Homo sapiens: one gene and its partners. The protein of the gene in region 1 purifies or fractionates together with the protein of each later gene. This does not show direct contact. Each region holds a gene or a part of one and is shown in the gene's direction. Other genes may lie near its edges. The genes, in order: SOD1, HEXB, CENPV, SOD2, TKT, DSTN and PRDX6.

The links.
Region 2: the proteins of SOD1 (region 1) and HEXB purify together in Homo sapiens (affinity purification with mass spectrometry; 3 studies listed by BioGRID and IntAct, with this or other methods). This does not show direct contact.
Region 3: the proteins of SOD1 (region 1) and CENPV purify together in Homo sapiens (affinity purification with mass spectrometry; 2 studies listed by BioGRID and IntAct, with this or other methods). This does not show direct contact.
Region 4: the proteins of SOD1 (region 1) and SOD2 fractionate together in Homo sapiens (co-fractionation; 2 studies listed by BioGRID). This does not show direct contact.
Region 5: the proteins of SOD1 (region 1) and TKT purify together in Homo sapiens (affinity purification with mass spectrometry; 3 studies listed by BioGRID, with this or other methods). This does not show direct contact.
Region 6: the proteins of SOD1 (region 1) and DSTN purify together in Homo sapiens (affinity purification with mass spectrometry; 2 studies listed by BioGRID, with this or other methods). This does not show direct contact.
Region 7: the proteins of SOD1 (region 1) and PRDX6 purify together in Homo sapiens (affinity purification with mass spectrometry; 2 studies listed by BioGRID, with this or other methods). This does not show direct contact.

The regions. Positions count from the first base shown.
Region 1 is NC_000021.9:31,662,693-31,666,061, forward strand, and holds part of SOD1 (superoxide dismutase [Cu-Zn]), read left to right. Parts: intron 1-1,097; coding exon 1,098-1,194; intron 1,195-1,613; exon of another isoform or gene 1,614-1,790; intron 1,791-3,369. UniProt on the Homo sapiens protein: Destroys radicals which are normally produced within the cells and which are toxic to biological systems.
Region 2 is NC_000005.10:74,688,233-74,691,732, forward strand, and holds part of HEXB (beta-hexosaminidase subunit beta isoform 1 preproprotein), read left to right. Parts: intron 1-1,095; coding exon 1,096-1,241; intron 1,242-3,500. UniProt on the Homo sapiens protein: Hydrolyzes the non-reducing end N-acetyl-D-hexosamine and/or sulfated N-acetyl-D-hexosamine of glycoconjugates, such as the oligosaccharide moieties from proteins and neutral glycolipids, or from certain mucopolysaccharides.
Region 3 is NC_000017.11:16,343,470-16,346,969, reverse strand, and holds part of CENPV (centromere protein V), read left to right. Parts: intron 1-2,258; coding exon 2,259-2,373; intron 2,374-3,500. UniProt on the Homo sapiens protein: Required for distribution of pericentromeric heterochromatin in interphase nuclei and for centromere formation and organization, chromosome alignment and cytokinesis.
Region 4 is NC_000006.12:159,669,242-159,672,741, reverse strand, and holds part of SOD2 (superoxide dismutase [Mn], mitochondrial isoform A precursor), read left to right. Parts: 3' UTR 1-3,500. UniProt on the Homo sapiens protein: Destroys superoxide anion radicals which are normally produced within the cells and which are toxic to biological systems.
Region 5 is NC_000003.12:53,249,523-53,253,022, reverse strand, and holds part of TKT (transketolase), read left to right. Parts: intron 1-3,500. UniProt on the Homo sapiens protein: Catalyzes the transfer of a two-carbon ketol group from a ketose donor to an aldose acceptor, via a covalent intermediate with the cofactor thiamine pyrophosphate.
Region 6 is NC_000020.11:17,594,075-17,597,574, forward strand, and holds part of DSTN (destrin), read left to right. Parts: intron 1-3,500. UniProt on the Homo sapiens protein: Actin-depolymerizing protein. Severs actin filaments (F-actin) and binds to actin monomers (G-actin). Acts in a pH-independent manner.
Region 7 is NC_000001.11:173,480,335-173,483,834, forward strand, and holds part of PRDX6 (peroxiredoxin-6), read left to right. Parts: intron 1-991; coding exon 992-1,148; intron 1,149-3,500. UniProt on the Homo sapiens protein: Thiol-specific peroxidase that catalyzes the reduction of hydrogen peroxide and organic hydroperoxides to water and alcohols, respectively. Can reduce H(2)O(2) and short chain organic, fatty acid, and phospholipid hydroperoxides.

The DNA.
Region 1 (3,369 bases):
ATATAATATTTTCTGACTGCTAATTAAAAATACCTGTGATAGCCGGGCGTGGTGGCTTACGCCTGTAATCCCAGCACTTTGGGAGGCCGAGACGGGTGGATCACGAGGTCAGCAGATGGAGACCATCCTGGCTAACACGGTGAAACCCCGTCTCTACTAAAAATGCAAAAAAATTAGCCGGGTGTGGTGGTGGGCGCCTGTAGTCCCAGCTACTCAGGAGGCTGAGGCAGGAGAATGGCATGAACCTGGGAGGCGGAGCTTGCAGTGAGCCGAGATCATGTCACTGCACTCCAGCCTGGGCGACAGAGCGAGACTCGTCTCAAAAAAAAAAAGAAAAAAACTTATGATGGACACTTAAAAACACTCACTGAGTGGGGAGTGGAGAGCAGGGGTCCCAGGGTAGCCTGTTGGACATTTCCAGGGCGACTTTTTCTTTTTTTTTTTTTAAAGTCAAGTGAGTATGCCATATGGAAAAGGGTGTGCGTGGAGAAAAAGCAAGGGGCTCCAGAGTGTAGGATGAGACATACACCTTTTGGGTTAAAAAGGCTGAGGCAGGAGAATGGCGTGAACCCGGGAGGCGGAGCTTGCAGTGAGCTGAGATCATGCCACTGCACTCCAGCCTGGGCGACAGAGCGAGACTCTTGTCTCAAAATAAAAAACGTTTACATGTACATGTATATTCAACATGTACAAATATAACCTATTCAAAAGTATTTACTACATAAATAGGTACTTACATTACCTATTTACTGTAATAGTCAAAGCCTATGAAGTATCTAACACTGATGTGTAGGTACTCACTTTGCTTGCCACTCTATTAGGTGCTTTTTATGTTATTTAATCATGAAGCCTGGCCACAGGGTGCTTGTGCATTGAGTGTGGGAACAAGATTACCATCTCCCTTTTGAGGACACAGGCCTAGAGCAGTTAAGCAGCTTGCTGGAGGTTCACTGGCTAGAAAGTGGTCAGCCTGGGATTTGGACACAGATTTTTCCACTCCCAAGTCTGGCTGCTTTTTACTTCACTGTGAGGGGTAAAGGTAAATCAGCTGTTTTCTTTGTTCAGAAACTCTCTCCAACTTTGCACTTTTCTTAAAGGAAAGTAATGGACCAGTGAAGGTGTGGGGAAGCATTAAAGGACTGACTGAAGGCCTGCATGGATTCCATGTTCATGAGTTTGGAGATAATACAGCAGGTGGGTGTTGTGCTGTGCTGGTGACCCATACTTGTTCACCCTAGTTAGATAAACAGTAGAGTAGCCCCTAAACGTTAAAACCCCTCAACTTGTTTTTGTTTTTGAGAAAGGGTCTTGCTCTGTCGCTCAGGCTGGAGTGCAGTGGCGCTGTGCGATCATGGCTGACCTTAGCCTTGACCTCCCAGGCTCCATTGATCCTCATGCCTTGGCCCGTAGCTGGGACTACAGGTACACACCACCACGCCTGGCTAATTTTTGTATTTTTTTCTAGAGGTGGGGTTTCATCATGTTGCCCAGGCTGGTCTTGAACTGCTGGGCTCAAGTGGTCTATCCTCCTCGACCTCCCAAAGTGCTGGGATTACATGTGTGAGCCACTGTGCCTGGGAAAACCCTCAACTTTTCTTTTAAAAAAGAGGTCAACTTTATTGTATATAAGCACTGTGCTAAAATTGCAGGAACTGGGACCATATCCTGATTTTTGTAATAATGCCAGCAGAGTACACACAAGAAAAGTAACTGCACTAGATTGTGAAGACTGGGGTGGACCTGCTTCTGAAGGTCCAGTGCCCTTTGTCTTAAGATTTGGTGTAGTGTGTCTTTAGAAACCAAAAAAAGAGAAGAAGATCAACCTTAAGATTAGCCACAAAACTGGGCTTTGATACCTAGGTGTGGAAAAGAAAGGGAAAGAGTTGATGTTTTGTCTTACAGCATCATTGTAGAAGAGGGTGTTTTTTTGTTTGTTTGTTTTTTGAGACGGAGTCTTACTCTGTGGCCCAGGCTGGAGTGCAGTGGCGCGATCTCGGCTCACTGCAAGCTCCGCCTCCCGGGTTCATGCCATTCTCCTGCCTCAGCCCCCTGAGTAGCTGGGACTACAGGTGCCCGCCACCCCGCCTGGCTAATTTTTTGTATTTTTAGTAGAGACGGGGTTTCACTGTGTTAGCCAAGATGGTCTCTCTCCTGACCTCGTGATCCGCCTGTCTCAGCCTCCCAAAGTGCTGGGATTACAGGCATGAGCCACCGCACCCAGCCAGAAGAGGGTGTTTTTTAAAGAAGGCAAATAGGAAATAAAAACTTGGGCTCTTAACTTTTGTAATGATCCCAGGTGTTTGAGCTGGGGGTTGAGGGTGGGTGCCTCGAGCAAAGGGGCTGCATTTATTTGCATAATGCCATGTAAGAGTAGCTCTACACCCCAAACACAGGCTTCTTAGTGGGACCAAAGTATGATACAAACTGAAGATGGAATGCAGAGGATTATTGGTACTTTGGAATATGCTTAAAAAAAATTTTTTTAAAGTATTTTTAAAAAATCAGGCAACCCCTGAACCAGAGTAGGTTCAGAGAAACTGCCAAATTTTATTTTCTTAATTTGGGATTGGAAGCAAGTTAACAGAAGTTTATGAGTTAAGTTGCATTTAGTGATCTTTTGCCATATTTGAGTAATAATCTGATTTTTTTGTTTATAGATTTCTTCTTAAATTAACTTTATTCATCTTGCTAATTTAGTTTCAAATAGTGATTTGTAATGATCAGATTTGATCCATTTCTGTAATTGCTGAAATTCCCCCGAGTTGCTTTTTGGCTTTACCGCCTCTGGTCTGGGAGGTGATTGCTCTGCTGCTTCCTGTAACTTGCCTGCCTTTCTCCCTGTGTGGGACTCCTGCGGGTGAGAGCGTGGCTGAAGACAGCCGTGTTATGAAAGGGCCTCCTGTGCTGTCGAGGTTGTGCTCTGTGAATGTCATCCCCTGGTGCACAGCAGCACCTTCTACACAGGATACAGTTGGAATGCCGCCCCCTCGAGTTGTGTAAGGCAGCAGCCTTGGCCCTTGCACATAAGATGCTGTTGAATATTCTGCCTGCACCAAGTAAAGGGCACAGATAGAACTGCTTGGCATATGTTGCTGGGGAGATGAGTTTTTTGTAAAGTATACTACGTTCTTAAGAATTTGGATCATAACCATGGGATTTTAATAATAGAAAAACTGTTGAAGATCAGTCTGGTCCCTTATTTTTACAGTGAAGAAGCCAAAGCCCAGAGAAGGGTGTTAACTTTACAAGTGTCAGACAGTAGTTAGAACTTGGTGGGGTTTTTTTTTTTTTTTTTTTGAGATGGAGTCTTGCTCTGTTGCCCAGGCTGGAGTGCAGTGGTGCGATCTCAGCTCACTGCAACCTCTGCCT
Region 2 (3,500 bases), on another chromosome or scaffold:
TGTATTTAATATTAATATTAATATTTAATGCCTTTACAATATTTAATGCCTTTACAGAATTTTTATTTAATATTCTCTGATTTTTGGATACCAACAAAAGGTACTTTTTTTTTTTTTGAGATGGAGTCTCGTTCTGTCACCCAGGCTGGAGTGCAGTGGTGCGATCTTGGCTCACTGCTGCAACCTCCACCTCCCGGGTCCAAGCAGTTCTCCTGCCTCAGCCTCCTGAGTAGCTGGGATTACAGGCGCCTGCCACCATACCCAGCTGATTGTTTGTATTTTTAGTAGAGACTGTGTATTTTTAGTTTCACTATGTGGGCCGGGCTGGTCTTGAACTCCTGACCTCGTGATCCTCCCGCCTTGGCCTCCCAAAGTGCTGGGATTACAGGCATGAGCCACTGCAGCTGGCCAACAAAAAGTAAATTTTAAAGGCTCTGGTGAGAATTCTGGACCTTCTTTTGGGGCTTTATATGTAAGCTAGGATACTTTTGCAGGAAGGTAACAGGAACTCTGACTCAATCTGGCTCAAACAATAGGAAAACTTATTTCACACATTAGGATGTCCAAAAGTAGGGATGAATTTAGGGCAAGTTGACCAAGTGGCTCAACAGTGTTACCAGGGATCCATATTCTTTCCATCTCTGCTCTGTCCACTTTAGTGTAGTGGCAACTAGTCCAGCTCTCACATACAGAGAAACGAAGTTTTCTTGTGATTTGCTCAGAACTCCCCCTAACCCCCACATCCTATCACTGGTCAGAATTGGTTTTTCATTCCCAAGAGTGATGGATTACCATGATGGTTTCATTATTGGTTCTTAACGGGGCTTCATATGTCACTTCAGAGTGTGGGGAAGCATTTAAAATTCCCATGCCTGAATCCCATTCTAATAGATTCTGATTCTGAAGGCATGGACGTTGGGATTTTCAAAAAACTTCCCAAGTGATTCTAATGTACAGCTTGGGGTGAGAATCTCTAGTTGGACTTACAATGGGCAGCATGGATTTGAGGAGTTAACTACAATGTTACTAGCACATCTGTTTTAAAAATTTGGCTAAAATCCTTCTAAAATGTGTTTACATTTATTTCTCAAACAGATATCATGGCTATATTTTTGGTTTCTACAAGTGGCATCATGAACCTGCTGAATTCCAGGCTAAAACCCAGGTTCAGCAACTTCTTGTCTCAATCACCCTTCAGTCAGAGTGTGATGCTTTCCCCAACATATCTTCAGATGAGTCTTGTAAGTACCTATGCAATGTGAGTGTATTATATCCCAGGTGCTCGCTGACGGACTTAAGTGCCAAAAACTGACTCCATGCTAGGAACCACTGAGTTCTCAACCAGTGAGTTTATGATTCCTATTTTAAAAATAACCTTTAAAGTCTGATTATAAAAGTAGTACATAGTCTTTGTGGAAAATTTATTAAGTACAGTAAGTGCAGAAGAAGAAATAAATCACTCATAATCCCAGCAGATAGAATTAATCACTGTCATTTTAGGTGTATTTTTTTGCAGAGTAAAACATGTAAACATTTTACATAGACATAAATACAAACATGATAAGCATTGACATGAAAATGGCAGTAATTCTGTACATGTGCTTCTTGTATTTTTGTTGTATTTTTATATCATGCTTTTTTGCAAAATACATTATAAATTAAACATGAATTTCACTAGTTTTCTGTGATATCATTTTCAATGGCTGAATAATGTTCTGTCACTATATGGATGAGCTGACTTGGGTAATCTCTTTTGGACATCTAGGTAATTTCTTAACTTTTTGTCTTTGAAAACATCTGTATCCATGATCTCTATTTATAATCTAATTTTACAGAAAGATAATGCAGAGCTAGGGGAGAGGGTGGGTACAGCAGTTTCATTTGTAATCTGCTGTACAATATAATCAACATTTAGCTGTATGATTTTGTCCTCGTTGTTGCCTAAAACGTTATTCTCTAGGGCTTTTCCCAAATTGTTTTAGAACAAATAAGTGGGCGTGCCATTTCTATAGGGTATACTGCCTGAGAATAATGTGGAATTGCACCAAGGAATCAAAGAAGGGCAGTATAAGGACATGTGTAATATAAGATTCGTGCAAGAAAGAGCAGACAGGGGAACTAAGTGTAAAGATAGAGGCTGGACGCTGTGGCTCATACCTGTAATCCCAGCACTTTGGGAGGCTGAGGTGGGTGGATCACTTAAGGCCAGGAGTTCAAGACCAGCCTGGCCAATATGCTGAAACTGCATCCCTACTAAAAAATACAAAAAGTTAGCCAAGCGTGTTGGTGCGTACCTGTAATCCCAGCTACTCGGGAGGCTGAGGCAGGAGAATCACTTGAACCCAGGAGGCAGAGGTTGCAGTGAGCTGCAATCATGCCGCTGCACTCCAGCCTGGGGGACAGAGTGAGACAGTCTCAAAAAAAAAAAAAAAAAAAAAAAAAAAAAAAAAAAAAAAAAAAAAAAAAAGATAGGATGCCACAAATTTAGAGAAAAGAGCAACTCCATTACCCCCAGACTGCCTCACAGTTAAGTACATGTCTTCATCCTGCTGGTTTAGATGAGATTTCTCAATAATACATCTCTTTGAAAAAAAGCTTTCTTTCTCTTCAATTCCATAGCTGTTCTTAGAAGAGAAATAGGAAAATTCACCAACATCAGGTATCATTTCAATTGATACTCAGCACTCAGACACCATGTGAAGTAGGTTTTGCAACCTGAATTGAGATGGAAATGGTCATTACGTTGCCAAGGAATCTTTGCTGTCCATTGGCAATACAGATAACAGATTGTAAATTCCACAAAATGAAATGTATCGAGACTAGAGAGTCATAGCTTATCTTTCAGTCAGTTCTACAAACCCTCTTTATTCTGAAAGGGAAGTTTCTTGAGACAAGGTTATTGTGAAATTTTCAGCTGAAGAATAAACTAGTTTTTAGTCTTTAAACTAGTTGATGATGATGATAAAAGTAACACATATGAATGGAAATAACAAGATATCAAATGTCCAGAGTGGGAGGACATGTTGGAGGAGGTGACACATGTTAAAGCACCACTATTTATTAAAAATAAAAATATGCATGCCCTGAGAAGTGGACTAGTTTTTACTGCAGATAAATGGACACATAAATCAAGGATGTTTGATGCAGTTTGCCTGTAATGTGAAGAACTGTCAATAAAACTCAATGTCCATCAATAGAGGAATGGCTAAATACATCTTGTCAATCTATACTAAACAGTATAATCACAACAGTTAAGAATAAAGAAGCAGTATTACTGAGAACACACATGGAGAACTGACAAGATAAACTGCTGAGTTGAACAAAGGAAGCTGTATAATTATGTGTAGAGGTGGACCCTGTTTATATATCAACACACGTGCAGGAACACACGCATAAAGCAATACTATATTTTCTCCTTCCGTGTACATCTATGTCAAGCCTAAGAAAATGCCCGATAAGTATTTCCTCTGAGGAAGGTAGAGGGAGTTAGGTGAGTATCT
Region 3 (3,500 bases), on another chromosome or scaffold:
CTGAGGTGGGAGAATCACTTGATCCTGGGAGGTCAAGGCTGCAGTAAGCTGTCGTCATACCACTGCACTCCAGCCTGGATAACAGAGTGAGATCTTGTCTCAAAAAAACAAAACAAAACAAAACAAAAACACCACACATACCAGTATATAGCCTTAAAAAAAAAAAAAGAAATGGTAGCATACCACGTACGTTGTTTTATACCTTGCTTAACTTTTTTTTTGAGACAGTCTCACTCTGTTGCCCAGGCTGGAGTGCAGTGGTGTGATCTCGGCTCACTGTAACCTCCGCCTCCCAGGCTCAAGTGATTCTCCTGCTTCAGCCTCCTGAGTAGCTGGGACTACAGGTGCCCGCCACCACATCTGGCTAATTTTTACATTTTTAGTACAGACAGGGTTTCACCATGTTGGCCAGGCTGGTCTTGAACTCCTGACCTCAAGTGATCTGCCCACCTTGGCCTCCCAAAGTGCTGGGATTACAGGCGTGAGCCACTGCGCCTGGCCTATACCTTGCTTTACTTTGTAACTTTGGCAATTGTTCCATGTTAGTTTTGTAGAGCTGTCTCATTCTTCTCAAAAGTTGGAGAATATTTCATTTTATGAGTGTCCATAATGCCTAACCGGTCCTCTATTGAGGGACATTTTCAATTTTTCCAATCTTTAGCCTTCATAAACAGTGCTATAGTATCTATATACCTATGTCATTGAGACATTTGGAATATATCTGTATAATAAATTTCAAGAAATGGAATTGTGTGCTAAAGCATATGTACACTTTAAAATTTTGGTAGATGTTGCTAAATTGTACCAATTCCTGTTCCTGTGACTGATATATGTGAGCACATATTTCTCTACATACTTGTCAATACCATGTTAACGGCTTTGATTTTGCCCACCTGACAGTGAAATACATCTCATTGAAGTTCCTTTGGTGAGCATTTCATAGGCTAAAGAGTGATTTATTTTTCTTTCTATCTGAACTGTCCGTTCATGTCCTTTGTCCAGTCTCCCGTTTGTATTATCCATTAAGGAAATTAGCCTGTCTATGACGTCTGGCAAATATTTTTTTCCTGGTTTGTCCTTTGTGGATAAATTAAGCACAGCCATCAGTTTTCTTAAGACCTTGAGCCGTTCTGTTTGGGGACATGGAGAGCCAGTCCCTTGGGTGAACTGTCTCTCCACATAGGCCCTGGGAAGCAAGCACTTTCCCTCCCTGATGTGATGTATCAGGGAAGGCTCAAGGCTGAATTCTGTATGCCGTTGACCTAAGGGAAGCTGTGAGCTGTCACGCTCCAGACTGACATGTCTCTGGATAGTGTAGATGGGTCTCTGTCCTCAAGAAGGTCCCAGTCTCTTCTGGAGATAGGAAATGGCCTCTTAGTACAAAGAGCCCTACAGAAGAGCTCCTGCCATTAAGTTATTTCAAGATTTTTTTTTTTAATGGTGCGATCTCAGCCCACTGCAGCCTCTACTTCCCCAGGCTCAACTGATGCTCCTACCTCAGCCTCCCAGGTAGCTGGGACTACAGATGTGTGCCACTGCACCTGGCTAATTTTTATATTTTTTTGTAGAAACAGGGTTTTGCCATGTTGCCCAGGTTGGTCTTGAACTCCTGGGCTCAAGCAATCCGCCTGCCTCGGCCTCAAAGTGTTGGGATTACAGGCATGAGCCACCATGCCTGGCCAAAGGTGTTTTTTTTTTTTTTTTTTTTGAGACGGAGTCTCGCTCTGTTGCCCAGGCTGGAGTGCCGTGGCATGATCTCGGCTCACTGCAAGCTCGGCCTTCCAGGTTCATGCCATTCTCCTGCCTCAGCCTCCCGAGTAGCTGGGACTACAGGCGCCTGCCACCACACCCGGCTACAAAGGTGTATTTTTTAAGTGACATAAAAATAAATGTCTTTGGGGCCAGGCGCAGTGGCTCACACCTGTAATCCCAGCACTTTGGGAGGCCAAGGTGGGTGAATCATGAGGTCAGGAGTTCGAGACCAACCTGGCCAACATGGTGAAACCCTGTCTGTACTAAAAATACAAAAAATTAGCTGGGCATGGGGGCACGCGCCTATAATCCCAGCTACTTGGGAGGCTGAGGCAGGAAAATCTCTTGAACCCATGCAGGTGGAGGTTGCAGTGAGCCAAGATTGCGCCACTGCACTCCAGCCTGAGAGACAGTGGGAGACTCTGTCTCAATAAATAAATAAATAAATAAATTAAATAAATAAATCTCTTTGTAAAAAAGAATACCGTTTGTCTGTTTTCACCTAGGGAGCTGAGCACATAACGACTTACACGTTCAATACTCACAAAGCCCAGCATACCTTCTGTAAGAGATGTGGCGTTCAGAGCTTCTATACTCCACGATCAAACCCCGGAGGCTTCGGTGAGTAAAGGGGATGGACTGCAAGCTCAGGGGGACACAGAGAGGCCCATGGTGCTCTCATTTAAAGTCTTATTTGGACAGGTGGGATGCTGACTAGACCCTGTCACATGCGTATCTTAGAGGAACAGGGCTCCTCAGCAGAGCGCTTTCCACATGATAGAATGTGAGTCGGGCTCCGGTGAAACTTTTCTGAATCCCATATCTGAATGTGGTGAAGTTGGACTTGGAGCCCATCCAGGTTGTGATTCTTATTCACTGGTGCTGGTAGAGCTGGTGTTGCTGGGGATGGTGTTGAAGGGTAGGGAGGAGAGGGGTGAGGAGATGGGCTTGTGGGGCCAGGGGAGGCAGCTTTAATAATGACAGGGGTTAAGGGAGTGAAGGAGGCAAGATTGGGGAGCATTGATAATGGCATTTGAAAGCTTTTTGGTTGTTCAAAAATTAGGCAGGACTGGCTGGCTGCGGTGGCTCACACCTGTATCCCAGCACTTTGGGAGGCCAAGGTGGGAGGATTTCTTGAGCTCAGGAGTTTGAGACCAGCCTGGGAAACATAGCAAAACCGTATCTCTGTTCTTTTTAAAAAATAATAAACAAGCAGGGAACCCTCCAAGCCCCGCTTCAGGGCCTGCTTGGGTCTGGGGAGTAATAAAACTAACCCTCTGACAGTTGTTGAGAATCATACCAACTATAGTGTGAATTGAAGGGGAAAGCAGAGGTGGAAGATGTTCTGAGGACTCTTGTTGTGTCAGTGCAGCCTCCAGAGCTGCGAGAGCAGCTATGACTGTCAGTGTCTTTTGCCTTATGGTGGTGGGGAGCGGACAGGGGAGGTGGGGGAGGCAGGGCAGGGCAGGATGTCATCCTTACCGCTCCCCCATTGCTTCAGGGCCTCCTGTTCCTCATCTGTCACATGGAGACTCCTTCCTGTCTACCTTGCAGAACAGGAAAGAGTTGAAAAGTATGAAATCCTGTGCAAATGGGAAGACATTTAATTCTTAGAAAGTTATCTATCTGAGGCCAGGCATGGTGGCTCACCTGAGGTCGGGAGTTCGAGACCAGCCTAACCAACATGGAGAAACCCCATCTTTACTAAAAATGCAAAATTAGCCAGGCTTGGTGGCGCACGCCTGTAT
Region 4 (3,500 bases), on another chromosome or scaffold:
TGTTATGTGTGAATTTGATCCTGTCACTAGGATGTTCACTGGTTATTTTGCTCGTTAGTTGATGCAGTTTCTTCCTAGCCTCAATGGTCTTTACAATTTGGCATGTTTTTGCAGTGGCTGATACTGGTTGTTCCATTCCATGTTTAGTGCTTCCTTCAGGAGCTCTTGTAAGGCAGGCCTGGTGGTGACAAAATCTCTCAGCATTTGCTTGTTTGTAAAGGATTTTATTTCTCCTTCACTTATGAAGCTTAGTTTGGCTGGATATGAAATTCTGGGTTGAAAATTCTTTTCTTCAAGAACGTTGAATATTGACCCCCACTCTCTTCTGGCTTGTAGAGTTTCTGCTGAGAGATCAGCTGTTAGTCTGATGGGCTTCCCTTTGTGGGTAACCCGACCTTTCTCTCTGGCTGCCCTTAACATTTTTTCCTTCATTTCAACTTTGGTGAATCTGACAATTATGTGTCTTGGAGTTGCTCTTCTCGAGGAGTATCTTTGTGGCGTTCTCTGTATTTCCTGAATTTGAATGTTGTCCTCCCTTGCTAGATTGGGGAAGTTCTCCTGGATAATATCCTGCAGAGTGTTTTCCAGCTTGGTTCCATTCTCCCCGTCACTTTCAGGTACACCAATCAGACGTAGATTTGGTCTTTTCACATAGTCCCATATTTCTTGGAAGCTTTGTTCGTTTCTTTTTACTCTTTTTTCTCTTAACTTCTCTTCTCACTTCATTTCATTCATCTGATCTTCAATCACTGATAACCTTTCTTCCAGTTGATCGAATTGGCTACTGAAGCTTGTGCATTCGTCACGTAGTTCTCATGCCATGGTTTTCAGCTCCATCAGGTCATTTAAGGACTTCTCTATGCTGGTTATTCTAGTTAGCCATTTGTCTAATCTTTTTTCAAGGTTTTTAGGTTCTTTGTGATGGGTTCGAACTTCCTCTTTTAGCTTGGAGAAGTTTGATCATCTGAAGCCTTCTTCTCTCAACTCGTCAAAGTCATTCTCCGTCCAGCTTTGTTCTGTTGCTGGCAAGGAGCTATGTTCCTTTGGAGGGGGAGAGGCGCTCTGATTTTTAGAATTTTCAGCTTTTCTGCTCTGTTTTTTCCCCATCTTTGTGGTTTTATCTACCTTTGGTCTTTGGTGATGGTGATGTGCAGATGGGGTTTTGGTGTGGATGTCCTTTCTGTTTGTTAGTTTTCCTTCTAACAGTCAGGACCGCCAGCTGCAGGTCTGTTGGAGTTTGCTGGACGTCCACGCCAGACCCTGTTTGCCTGGGTATCACAGTGGAGGCTGTAGAACAGCGAATATTGCTGAACAGCAAATGTTGCTGCCTGATCATTCCTCTGGAAGCTTCATCTCAGAGGGGTACCCGGCCATGTGGGGTGTCAGTCTGCCCCTACTTGGGGGTGCCTCCCAGTTAGGCTACTCGGGGGTCAGGGACTCACTTGAGGAGGCAGTCTCTCCGTTCTCAGATCTCAAACTCTGTGCTGGGAGAACCACTGGTCTCTTCAAAGCTGTCAGACAGGGACATTGAAGTCTGCAGAGATTTCTGCTGCCTTTTGTTCGGCTATGCCATGCCCCCAGAGGTGGAGTCTACAGAGGCAGGCAGGCAGGCCTCCTTGAGCTGCAGTGGGCTCCACCTAGTTCGAGCTTCCCGGCTGCTTTATTTACCTACTGAAGCCTCAGCAATGGTGGGCTCCCCTCCCCTAGCCTCACTGCCACCTTGCAGTTCGATCTCAGACTGCTGTGCTAGCAATGAGCAAGGCTCCATGGGCGTGGGACCCTCCGAGCTAGGCACAGGATATAATCTCCTGGTGTGCCGTTTGCTAAGACCATTGGAAAAACGCAGTATTAGGGTGGGAGTGACCCAATTTTCCAGGTGCCGTCTGTCACAGCTTCCCTTGGCTAGGAAAGGGAATTCCCTGACCCCTTGCCTTCCCGGGTGAGGCCATGCCTTGCCCTGCTTCAGCTCATGCTCAGTGGGCTGCACCCACCGTCCTACACCCACTGTCCAACAAGCCCCAGTGAGATGAACCTGGTACCTCAGTTGGAAGTGCAGAAATCACCTGTCTTCTGCGTCGCTCACGCTGGGAGCTGTAGACTGGAGCTGTTCCTATTCGGCCATCTTGGAACCCAACCCAAGTCTGGCATTTTTTGGTTTTCTCTGTGTATTGACTATGATTATAGAGGATAAATGGATATTGATATTATTAAATCGTCATTTACAGAAGGCACACAACTTATATCCTTTAAACAAAGTTCTCCAACCAGTAGGGTATACTTGCTGGTAGTGCTTACAGCTGCCACCATTCTTCACTGGGGCTCAGAGTGGATGCCTGGAGGAAAAAAACAAATGAATCTTTTAGCTCCTAGTTACTGTTAGCATTTTTACCAGAAAACAATTTAAAAAATGACACAAGTAAGTCTTCACCTATCAAGGCTGAGTGTGGTGGCCTATACTTGTAATCTCTGTGCTTTGGGAGGCCAACGCAGGAGGATCTCTTGAGTCCAGGAGTTTGAGACCAGCCTGGGCAACAAAGCAAGACCCCATCTCTACAGAAAGTTAAAATTTAGCTGGGCATGCTGGCACATCCCTATAGTCCCAGCTACTTGAGAGGCTGAGTTGGGAGGATCCCTTGAGGTCATGAGTTGGAGTCTACAGTGAGCTGTGATTACAGTGTGAGTCTACACTGCACTCCAGTCTGGGTGAAAGAGATCCTGTCTCTCAAAAAACAAGTGATTCTCCTGGGAAGAGATTTGTTTAAAAAGTCTGCACCTCTATTGATGATAACTTTGAATGTAAATGGATTAAATTCTCCCACTTAAAAGATATAGATTGACTGAATGGATTAAAAACCACCATCATGACTCGACTGTATGCTGCCTACAAGAAACCTCACCTGTAAAGACAGGCCAAAAGTGAAGGTATGGAGAAAGATATTGCATACAAATGGAAGCCAAAAAAGAGCAGAAATAACTATACTTACATGAGATAAAATAGACTTTAAGTCAAAAACTGTAAAAAGAAAAGTCATTATGTAATGAAACAAGGATCAATTCATGCAAGATATAATCATATTTTTTTATTAAGAAAATTTTTTTGTAGAGATGGGGTTATGCTATGTTGCCTGGCTAGTCTCAAACTCTGGGTCTCAAAGCAGTCCTCCTGCTTTGGCCTCCTAAGGTGCTGGGATTATAGGCATGAGCCACTGTGCCAGGCCTGAGGATATTATCATTATAAATATATATGTACCCCACACTGGATGACCCAGATATAAAGCAAATATTATTAGATTTAAAGGGAGAAATAGACTCTAATACAATAGTAGTTGAGGACTTCACTCTACTCTCAGCATTGGACAGATTTTCTAGACATAAAACCAATAAATATTGGATTTAAATTGCACTTTACACCAAATGGACCTGACATTTACAGAACATTCTAATAGGTGCAGAACACTCTAATAGCTGCAGAACACACGTTCTTTTCATCAGCACATGGA
Region 5 (3,500 bases), on another chromosome or scaffold:
CTAAAAATACAAAAAATTAGCTGGACGTGGTGGCGGGCGCCTGTAATCCCAGCTACTCAGGAGGCTGAGGCAGGAGAATCACTTGAACCCGGGAGGCAGAAGTTGCGGTGAGCTGAGATTGCACCATTGCACTCTGGCCTGGGCAACAAAATTGAAACTTCTTCTCAAAAAAAAAAAAGAATGCCTCTTGGGCAAGCAGTCTGTGCCAGGCTGGAGAATGGTGAAAAAGGTGAAAGGGAAGGCCAGGTACAGCCGCGGTGGATATTAGTCAGTCTGAAAGGCACTTGGAGAGAAATAAGATTTACAAATGTAGGGTGCTCCAAAAGAGTGGAATGTCAAGTGTGTCTCCTAGTTCTTTGTTAGGCAAAGTCTGATTTCCTCACCGCCGTTACCCCTCCGGAAACATACTGTGGTGTCCGAGAGTTACACCATGTTTACATTGTAATGTCTTGGAGAGGGAAGCTCACTGAACTCAAAAAATATCCATTTGCAAAAGAAAAAAAGGATATGTAAAATACAGTGACTGTGTGTGTGTATGTATATGTTTAAAATATGCAAAAAAGGAGGGAAAACTTATTTTTCAGAAGGAAATAACGTTGCTATGCAACCCATATTTTGAAAGTTGTGAGCCAAGAGTATGTGTGTGTTTGCACCCAAAAGCTAATCAAGGAAGACTTGAGACACAGGTAGTCTTCTGTTTCTTGTCCCCAGATGTTTATCTTGAGGCCCACTGTTCCCTCTCTGCAATGAGGCATAGAGTGAAGGCTCAGTCCGGAAGCCCTGGCCCAATCTGGGCTGTAGTCACAGCTAAAGTGACAGTTTGTCAGAATGTCCCCTTTTCTGGGGGAGCTCACAGGACTTTGATCCAGTTCTTTTTCTTTTGAGATGGAGTTTCACTCTTGTTGCCCAGGCTGGAGTGCAATGGTGCGATCTTGGCTCACCACAAACTCCGCCTCCCAGGTTCAAGCAATTCTCCTGCCTCAGCCTCCCAAGTAGCTGGGATTACAGGCATGCACCACCACGCCCGGCTAATTTTGTATTTTTACCCCGTAGAGACGGGGTTTCTCCATGTTGAGGTTGGTCTTGAACTCCTGACCTCAGGTGATCCGCCCGCCTCGGCCTCCCAAAGTGCTGGGATTATAGGCGTGAGCCACCGCTCCTGGCCCCTTTTCCTTTTTTCTTTTTTTTTAAGACAGGGTCTTGCTGTGTCACCCACCAGGTCTGGAGTACAGAGGCACAGTCATGGCTCCCTGCAGTCTTGAACTCCTAGGCTATAGCAATCCTGCCTCACCCTCCTGGGTAGCTGGGACCACAGACATGTGCTACCATGTCTAGCTTTGGTCCAATCTTTTGCTGGCCACTTACTGAGACAGGATTTGTACATTCTGTGAGGACCCAGGCTCGTTTCTCGATAGCTTTCCCATTCCTATGCCATTGCTGACCCGTGTGCAGTGAACCTCACCAGGCCCAGGAAGCAGGGACACTGGCCTCTGTCAGGAGTTGGGCCTGGAGGTGAAGGGACAGACCTCACAGAAGGCTCTTTGTTGAGGCAGCGCCCACAGTGGCTAGAGCTTCTCTGGGGTCATCTCCTTCCATGGGCTGAAGGAATTATGGCAAGGGTCCAGCTCATCCTGGCTTTAAAAAAACAAAACCCCAGTGGCCTTGTCAGAAGTGGCCTGGATGCTGAGGCTGGTGGCAAAGATTTCTCAGTTCTCACCAGGGCCAGACTGTGGTGTTATCCAAACAGTGCAAGTGTCATCTGAGGACTCCATCACAGTCAGGCCTGATTCAAAAGGGAAGGTGGTCTGTGCTTTCAACAAGTCCCCCCAGGGTTTCTGACCCACAGCTTTGGGGAGGTTAATGCCTGGCCAGTCCTGGCTGGTGGACACAGGAGATGAGTCCAACCCTGGCTCTGTTCCTAGTGGCTGTGCCTTTGTCAGAAAGGCCCTTCCGGCCAGGTGCGGTGGCTCATGCCTGTATTCACAGCACTTTGGGAGGCCAGGGTGGGAGGATTGCTTGAGCCTGGGAGTTCAGGACCAAACTGGGCAACATAGTGAGACCTCATCTCTACAAAAAAAAGAAAGAGCTGTGCATGTGCCTGTAGTCCCAGCTACTTGGGAGGCTGAGGTGTGAGGATCACTTGAGCCCAGGAGTTCAAGGCTGCAGTGAGTTATGATCATGGCTCTGCACTCCAGCCTGGGCAACAGTGAAACCCTGGCTCTTAAAAAAACAAAACAAAACAAAAAAACCTTCCTATCTCAGGTTCTCAGTTGCCCAGGCTAGAATGCTGTGGCGTGATCTCTGCTCACTGCAGCCTCCGCCTCCTGGGCTCAAATGATGCCCTCATCTCAGCCTCACAAGTAGCTGGGACCACAGGCATGAGCCACTATGCCTTGGCTAATTTTTGTATTTTTTGTAGAGTTGAGGTTTTGTCATTTTGCCCAGGCTGGTCTCAAACTCCTGGGCTTAAGCGATCCACCTGCCTCAGCTTCCCTAGAGTACTGGGATTACAGGCCATTTTCTCCATCTTGAAAGGAGAGGTTCATGGATAGGTGGTTTCAAACTGGGTGCCTCAGGAGTAGGGCTGGGGATGGAGTGAGTGGGCTCCGGGGTCCCACCGCCCGCTGTTGCTGATTTTACATCCTGGTGCTCTTTGTGCCCTTAAAGTGGCTGGGGTTGTATCCCAGTTTACCCAGCTCTGACATCCAGGTGCTTTGGCTGAAGGCTTGAGGGCCTCCTGGGGTCTCTGGCCCCATGTGGCTCCGCCTCTCTGGGCCTGTTTCTGTTTTTGGGCTGCCTCAGGACCCATCCTGGCCCTGACTGAGGCAAGAGCATGACCGTTGAGATTGCCCCAGCAGCAGCATTTCCTCACTCAGTGTGAAGACACTGGCCACCCTGGGGTGGCTTGGTTCTCTGCCCGAGTGACCTCTCCTCTGCAGGGCTGGTGGTCGGTGTTTTAAGAAACTGGAAGTGAAGTACAGCACCTAGTTAGGATCTGGCTGAGACTTTGTCGTGGCTTCCTATGGACTCTAACTGATGTCCGGCCCCTGTTGTGGCTCTGACCCCTCAACATTCATTGTCTCTTGTGGCAGGCTTGTTGTCACTGTCGCCTAGTTCCACAAAATCAGGAACTCCCTTCTTGCCACAGACCAGTTTGCCCTGGGTGCTGGGGACACTTCTAGAGGTCAGGGACCTGCACAGAGCTAGGTCCTCAGGCAGGCTCTGCTCCTGCCCTGAATGGAGAGGCAAGGTAGGGGAGAGAGGATGTGCTGGGAGCTGGGGTGAGCCCACCTGCAGATGGGGGTTGCTCAGAAGTCAGTTGCATTTGTGCACTGGGTGGAATCTCCGAGGACTACACAGCTGGAAGGGAAGTGTGGACGCCCAAGAACTTCCTCTACTGAGCTCTCCTAGCACCTTTTTCTTCATTTATTTGTTTGTTTGACAGAGTCTCGCTCTGTCACCCAGGCTGGAGTGCAGTGGGGCGGCGATCTTGGCTCACT
Region 6 (3,500 bases), on another chromosome or scaffold:
TATCTCAAAAATAAATAAATAAATAAATAAATAAATAAATAAATAGCTATTTTTTACCTTCAGATCAATGGAAAGCCACTGGACTGTTCTAAGTATGGTGATCAGATTCATGTTTATGTAGAGGATGAATTGGAGGGTAAAGGTGATGGGCAGTTGGTATGGGCAGTCTTGTTGTATTAGAACTGCAATAACAAATTAAATTCAAAATCTCAGTGACTTAACACAGTAAAGATTTGTCTCTGTCACGCAGAGTCCAGAAGGGTTGGGCAGCCTTCTCCTATCATGAAGTATGCTTACCAAGGTCATCTTGGTGGGAGAAAACAGAGCTTTAAGATCACTTTTATTTAACTTTTATTTAATTTTTGATGTTTTAAAAATCATTTTATTGTGGTAGGATTCACATCTAAAAAGCTGTATTTAGTGTATTTAAAGATCACTTTTAAAGGGCCAGGACTGGAAGTAGTTTACATAACTGGGCCCAGCTTGGCTGTTCAGAACTCAAATGGCTGTTCAGAACTCAGTCATACAGCCAACTCAGCTTGCCAGGAAGGCTGGGGAATGCAGTCTTTCCTGTTCAGCCAAGAAGAGAAAACAGTATGATGTATACATATCCTAATCTCCCTCCTCTGCAGCCACTTGAGGAGTTACTGCAGTCCAAGTAAGAGGCAATGGAAGCTTGGACTGAGGGTGAAATGAGATGAATGTATCAGAGAAAGATGAAAATCCAAAGAGTAAGATAATGGAGGAGTTGCTAAGAACATCTCTTAGGCTTGGAGCCTTATGTGACTAGGAGGGTGGTGATAGCTACTGAGAAAGGAAGACTGGTTAGAAATGGACCAGCTTGTTTTTTATTTTAGACATGTTGTGCATCACATGCCTTTGAGACACACAACTGGAGATGTGAGATAGGAAGTTGAATGTAAAGACTAGAAGCTCAGAAGAGCAGAAGTCTGAACTAAGTTTTGGCTTAGATGATTGAAAGCTTGAGCTTGGGTAAACTCTCTGAGGAAGAATGCAGAGTTCGTCCTTTCCTTCCACACTGCCATCAGCCTCTGCTTTCCACTGCATTGTCCTACCACCCTCACCCCTTGACCTCAGCTGACCTTTTGGAGGTCCCCAGAGCCCTTTTTCTTGTCCTTAGGTAGTTCCTTTTGGAACTCCCCGTCATAGCTGTTCTGAATTGTTAGTAGTAGTAGATTGGAGGAGTGCCCTCAAACCCATCCTACTCCTCCTGCCTTATACTTCACAGAGAAAATAGAATCTTTCAGACACAATTTTTGGCAGTGTATCTTCCTTCCACCTCAAAACTGTCATTTTCCCTTCCTCCCTGTTTCAGAGAAAAAAATGTGTATCTTTTTCTTAGGCTAACTCTCCCATCTGTGCTGTGGATCTTACCCATTTCTTTAGATCTCTGATATTGTTAATTTTATGAGTGATTAAGATTATCTCCTCTGGAATTGCTTGAACCCAGGAGGCAGAGGTTGCAGTGAGCCGAGATGGTGCCATTGCACTCCAGCCTGGATGACAAGAGCGAACGTCCATCTGGAAAAAAAAAAAAAATCTCCTCTGGAGCCAAATTGCCAGAGTTCAAATCCCAATTCCTCTATTGTTTACTCTGTGACCCTGGGCAAATTATTTAATTTTGCTATGCATCTTTAAGATGCAAATAGTGATAGTAGCTGTCTCATAGAATTGTTGTGATTTAGAAGTGTCTAGCAATAGTAAGTACTCAGTGTATGTTTTAATTTTTTTTTAATGTTTTGGCTCTTCCTCTTTATTCCTTCAAGTTCTTAAATATCTAGAACAGTTACATCTCCCCAATCATAAGACAACTTGCATGAAGTACCATTCAATCTTCCCTTTTTTCTTCATTGTTAACCATCTTATGTTTTCTGTCTTTACCTCTTCAATTCCCCATGGGTCCCCAGTCCATTATGGTTGACTTCTGTCCCATTTCTCCCATCTGTTGAAATGTTCAGAGGCCCAATTGCCAAGCCCAGCGATCTGTTTTCATTCTCTGAAATACTGCAGAATTGGCTGTTGATGACTTTCCTCCTCAAAATATTCTCCCTTGCTTCTAAGATGCTGCTTTCTTCCTTCTTTTTCTTCTTAGTTTTCTGATTACCTCTTTTTAGTGTCCTTGATGGGTTTCTCTTTTTAATTTTTACGTACTCAGTGGTGAGAAACTAGATTGGTTTTTCTTTTGCTGCTTAATGTTGGTGACCCCATGGTGTGGGCTAGTCCAAAATATGGATTAGGTGAAGCCTTCCAACGAGATCCGTGCTCATATTTCTGCCACTGTCTGGTCATCTCCACCTAGATGTCTTGCACAGTCTTCAGAGTGGATGTGTCGTACTGTGCCATATTTCCTTTTCTGTTCATATATTGCAGTCTAGTCACTAATCGAGAGAATCCTGGGGCTTCTCTGATACCACTCTTTTGTGTCTCATTCAGCTATATTGGTTTGACTTTGACATGTCCTTGAATTTTTCTGTTTTTAACCTCACTGCTGTAGTTCAGAGCTTTCTTCTCTGAATATTTGTAATTGTGTCAAAATTGGTTTTCTGCTTCCAGTTTCTGTGCCAGTTTCTCCTTCAAGTATTCAGTGTTAATTTCCTCAAGCACAAGTGTCTAATGGTATAAGAAACCTCCACAGACATCACTTCTGATAGAAAAAAAGACAAAATTCTTCCTTACTGAGGCTTTTAAGGAGCTTGTAAGTTACAGCCAGATTTGGCTGAGATTTATCTGTTTTATAATTGCAGAATGCACATTTACTTTGTTTTTGATTACTAGTACATCATTGATTTAATTTACAAATCAGAATTTAGAATGTTTGAGATGCTTAGATATTGATTGATGTATTTAAAGATTGGTTGATTGAATATAAGGCTTTAGATGTTGCCTTCCTGCTTTTAGAAATTGCTTGTTGGGTCAAATGTGACTTCAACATTATGGACTAGGGAGTTAGAGGGATTGGGATCTGTTTCTAGTTCTTCAATTTTTGTTGCTTTGAACATTTTATTCATCTGTTGCAAAATGGAGATTCTTAACTTGCTTAACATAAGATACGTTGTAAAGATCAGAAATATGCTACTCCTAAAGCAGTAAAAGGTTTAAGAAAAGTGCTTTTTAAAATTAGGAATGTGGTAATATTGTGTACTTATGAGTTTTCTAGTCCTAATTTTCTGTTTCTGCCACTTTATTAGAGTGAATGTTCATTTATGAACAGAAAATGTGGAGTAGATGGCATTGGAGTGTGTTATTTAGAGATCTTTAATGAATGAGATGATGAAATAGCCCAGTTACCTTAATATTAAGTAAATGCTAGGATCTTAGTGTATCTTTCTCCCAGGATTCTTGCATGTGTTTTAAAGTGACAACTTTATTTTTATTTGTTTGTATAAATGTATGGGGGTACAAGTGTAATTTTGCTACATGCATGGATGGTAGCAGTGAAGCCAGATCTTTTAGGGTATCCATCACCCGAATAACATACA
Region 7 (3,500 bases), on another chromosome or scaffold:
GCTAGATTTAGTTATCTACTAGTTTAGGATCCTGCCTAAATCATCTGGTTTAGGATGGTTTAAGTTGATGGGGATGTGGAGAACTGAGTGTTAAATTTTCCTTTTCAGTTGAAAGAGTAGTTTCTGTTGCCAAGAAGAAGGAAATGGTACTTCAGCTTTCTTCGTGACAGCTTGAAATGTGCTCAAAATTATAAAATCTTAGACAATGATGACTTAGATATTAGTATTTACCTAAGAATTTGCTGTTGTAGAAATCTACATTGCAGGCTATCAAAATTCTACCTGCTTGGTCTGAAGAAAGAAGAAAAAGAAACTGCAAATGAAGAGATAGGTAAAACTGTGAAGGTGCTATTGTTTTGTCAGAGTATAAATATTGGGTGTCATGTTTGGCAGGTAAGATCAGTAAAGTGGTTTTACAAAAGATTTTATATCCACTTGCTTCAGAGAAGCCAAGTGTCAACTTTAATTTTTACATATAAATAGAAGATAGAAACCTATTTATTTCAGATTACATAATTTGTTTATTATTGCAGTCAGGCATTTGTTTGGATTCAGGGCATACTGGGACATCCATTATTGGAGCTGAATGTCAGGGTCTATGCTAGAAAAAAATGTAGAAAAGGATAAGAAGAAATAATTAAGTGTTTTCAGTGAACTACTTGGCTTGAATAGCACAGATTGTATTAGCCAAAAAGGAGTCAGGGTGGCACCATAATTATTAAAGGAGGCAACACCTTAACATTAGTCTTTTTAAATATGTGTCATCTTGAATTTCATGTCTTTGATTGAATTGGGCTATAAGCATAGGCTTCTCTGGAGGTAAGTAGATTGAAAAGCACTCCTCAACAGAAAAGCTTAAAAGTAAATATCATCATAAGCATTCATTTAAAAAAGAAAGCCTGTTTTTGATCCAGAAGTTGTGACTTTTCATTCTCTGTGATGTTGGTGATAACTCTTAATTCAATTGTGACCTTGTTTTTCTTCCTTTCAGATGGGGCATTCTCTTCTCCCACCCTCGGGACTTTACCCCAGTGTGCACCACAGAGCTTGGCAGAGCTGCAAAGCTGGCACCAGAATTTGCCAAGAGGAATGTTAAGTTGATTGCCCTTTCAATAGACAGTGTTGAGGACCATCTTGCCTGGAGCAAGGTTAGTATCAATTGGCATGTGCTTTGAGCCTGAGATTATAGGTCAAGTTATAAATTATGGAGTACTTGGTTTTGAGGTTAAGGTACAAGTAAGCCTTAGGTTCAAAGTTCACTAATTATTTGAAAATTTCAGTTGAACCACACAGTGATCACATTGCTAAATCCATTGGTCAGTCAATTCTCAGCCCTCCTCTTGGCCTGCCAGCAGCATTCAACCCAGCTGATCACTGTACCTCCTGAAACTTTTTCCTTTCTTGACTTCCAGGACACCACATTCTAGCTGTTCCTGCTCACTGATTCTTCATCTCCCAACTCCTAATTTATGCTGAAGTTACCCTGAACTTATTTCTTGGACCTCATCTCTTTTCTGTCTGCACTCTTTCCCTTGGTGAGCTCATCCACTCACCTTTAAATACCATCTATGTGCTGTGATTCTCAAATTTTCATCTCTATGCCAGACTCTTCCAGGTTCATATAACCACTGCCTACCTAGCATCTCTCCTGGGATGTCCAGTCATCTCAAACCTAGCATGTCTAACTAGGCCTCATTCTTAGATCCAGAGTTTTACTCATCTAAGCTAATGGCAACTACATTTTTATAGTTGTTCACACCCCAAATCCAGGAGCCATTCTGAATTCTTCATGTTTTTTCACATCATACATCTGATTTATCCTCAAACTTGTCAGCTCTACCTTCAAAATATGTCCTGTATCATAGATAGAAGACTCACTTCCCAGGGATCTGTGTGACTTACCCTCACCTCTTTTGGGTCTCAACTCACAGGACATTTCATCAAAGCCTTTCTTGTCCTCATTATCTAAAATTATAACTCCTTTTCACGTTCACCATCCCCTTCTCCTCAGCACTCTGCATACTACCTATTTAGTTTGTTTGTTTCTTCCTAGTAGAGTATAAACTCAGCAGGAACAGAGACTCCTGTTTAGTGCACTGCTGGAACAATGCTCACTACTCAGTATATCCTAGGCGATCAGTCAATATTTGTTGAATGAATTAACTGAAGGAAATACCTACTTCTAGCAAAAGAATTTACTTGAACAGTAAATTTGGTGGTCTGAATTTACCTTGAAAACATTTTAAGAACTTGACTGCACTGTGCTGTTAAGTAATAATGATAACTACTTTTTGAGGGATGTATACTAGAAACTATGTCAAACGTGCAGTTGAATAAAAGATGTATTGACTTGTGAGTTAGGGGTCTGTGGCTGCATCCTATAGCAGTTAATGCCAGTTAATCCTAAATATCTGAGACTAGAAGAATCATGTGTAGGAGAAAAAAGAAGGGCAGTTATCTGTCTTGAAGTAGAATTTTTTTTCATTCCTTACACTTCTCAGTGAGTGGTAACTGTAGTTTTTGCTATCATTTTTCATTTTCGTTTTTGCAGTTGAACATACTTTTTTCACTCAGAGAGTTGGAGGGACTTGCCCAAGACTGCCCAATGGCAATGAGATTTCAACCTCAAATCAATGTTCTTTTTAATGCAAGATGATAAAGAGTAGGATTTAGCCTAATTTAGGATAGAATAAAGCCAAATAATTTAGGATAGGTTCTTTGGTGTTCATGGGTGTAATCTAATGCCCATGATGCAAGTGGCAGAGTAGAGAATTAGTGCACAGCAATAATTAAAGTGACATATTGCCAAAGGAAGCGGTTATAGCCCATTATATAATACCTTTTAAAGGACAGACGCATACTCAGGTTTATTTTACCTGCTGAGCTTCTGCCTTAGAAGTTTTCAGAATTGTGATTACATTGAATAGGAAAAAAGTCTGAACTATCAGAAGCAGTGCCGCAACTTTGACAAACAACTGATTATATAATAATCTGCCTCTAGCATGAGACTATATTAATTATTATTTAGCTCTGGTGACTTCATAAGCAGCCAGTGACAACAGAAAGTTAAGATAATAAAATGAAGGAATGTTACAATTTGTTATCATCCGGGAGCCTGAGGCAGGAGAATGGCTTGAACCCGAGAGGTGGAGGCTGCAGTGAGCTGAGATCGCGCCACTGCACTCCAGCCTGGGCAACAGAGACTCCACCTCAAAAAAATAAATAAATAAAAAGAATTTGTTGTTATCCACTTCAGAGCTCATTAATGCCACATTTGTCACATCTCCGTTGAGAAATCCACAATGGTTTTGTATCTGCTATGCCATCAAGCCCCTGTTTTACTTTCAAGCCTACACACAATAGACGTTATTCCAATTTTAAATCCTCTTTTCCATTACTTGCTAAACTCTATCCAACTAAGTTCCTCACTCTCCTATCAATAGTTTATGTACAGAGTTGCCCACATGTTTCATTAATATCGTTCCTGGCCGGGCACAGTG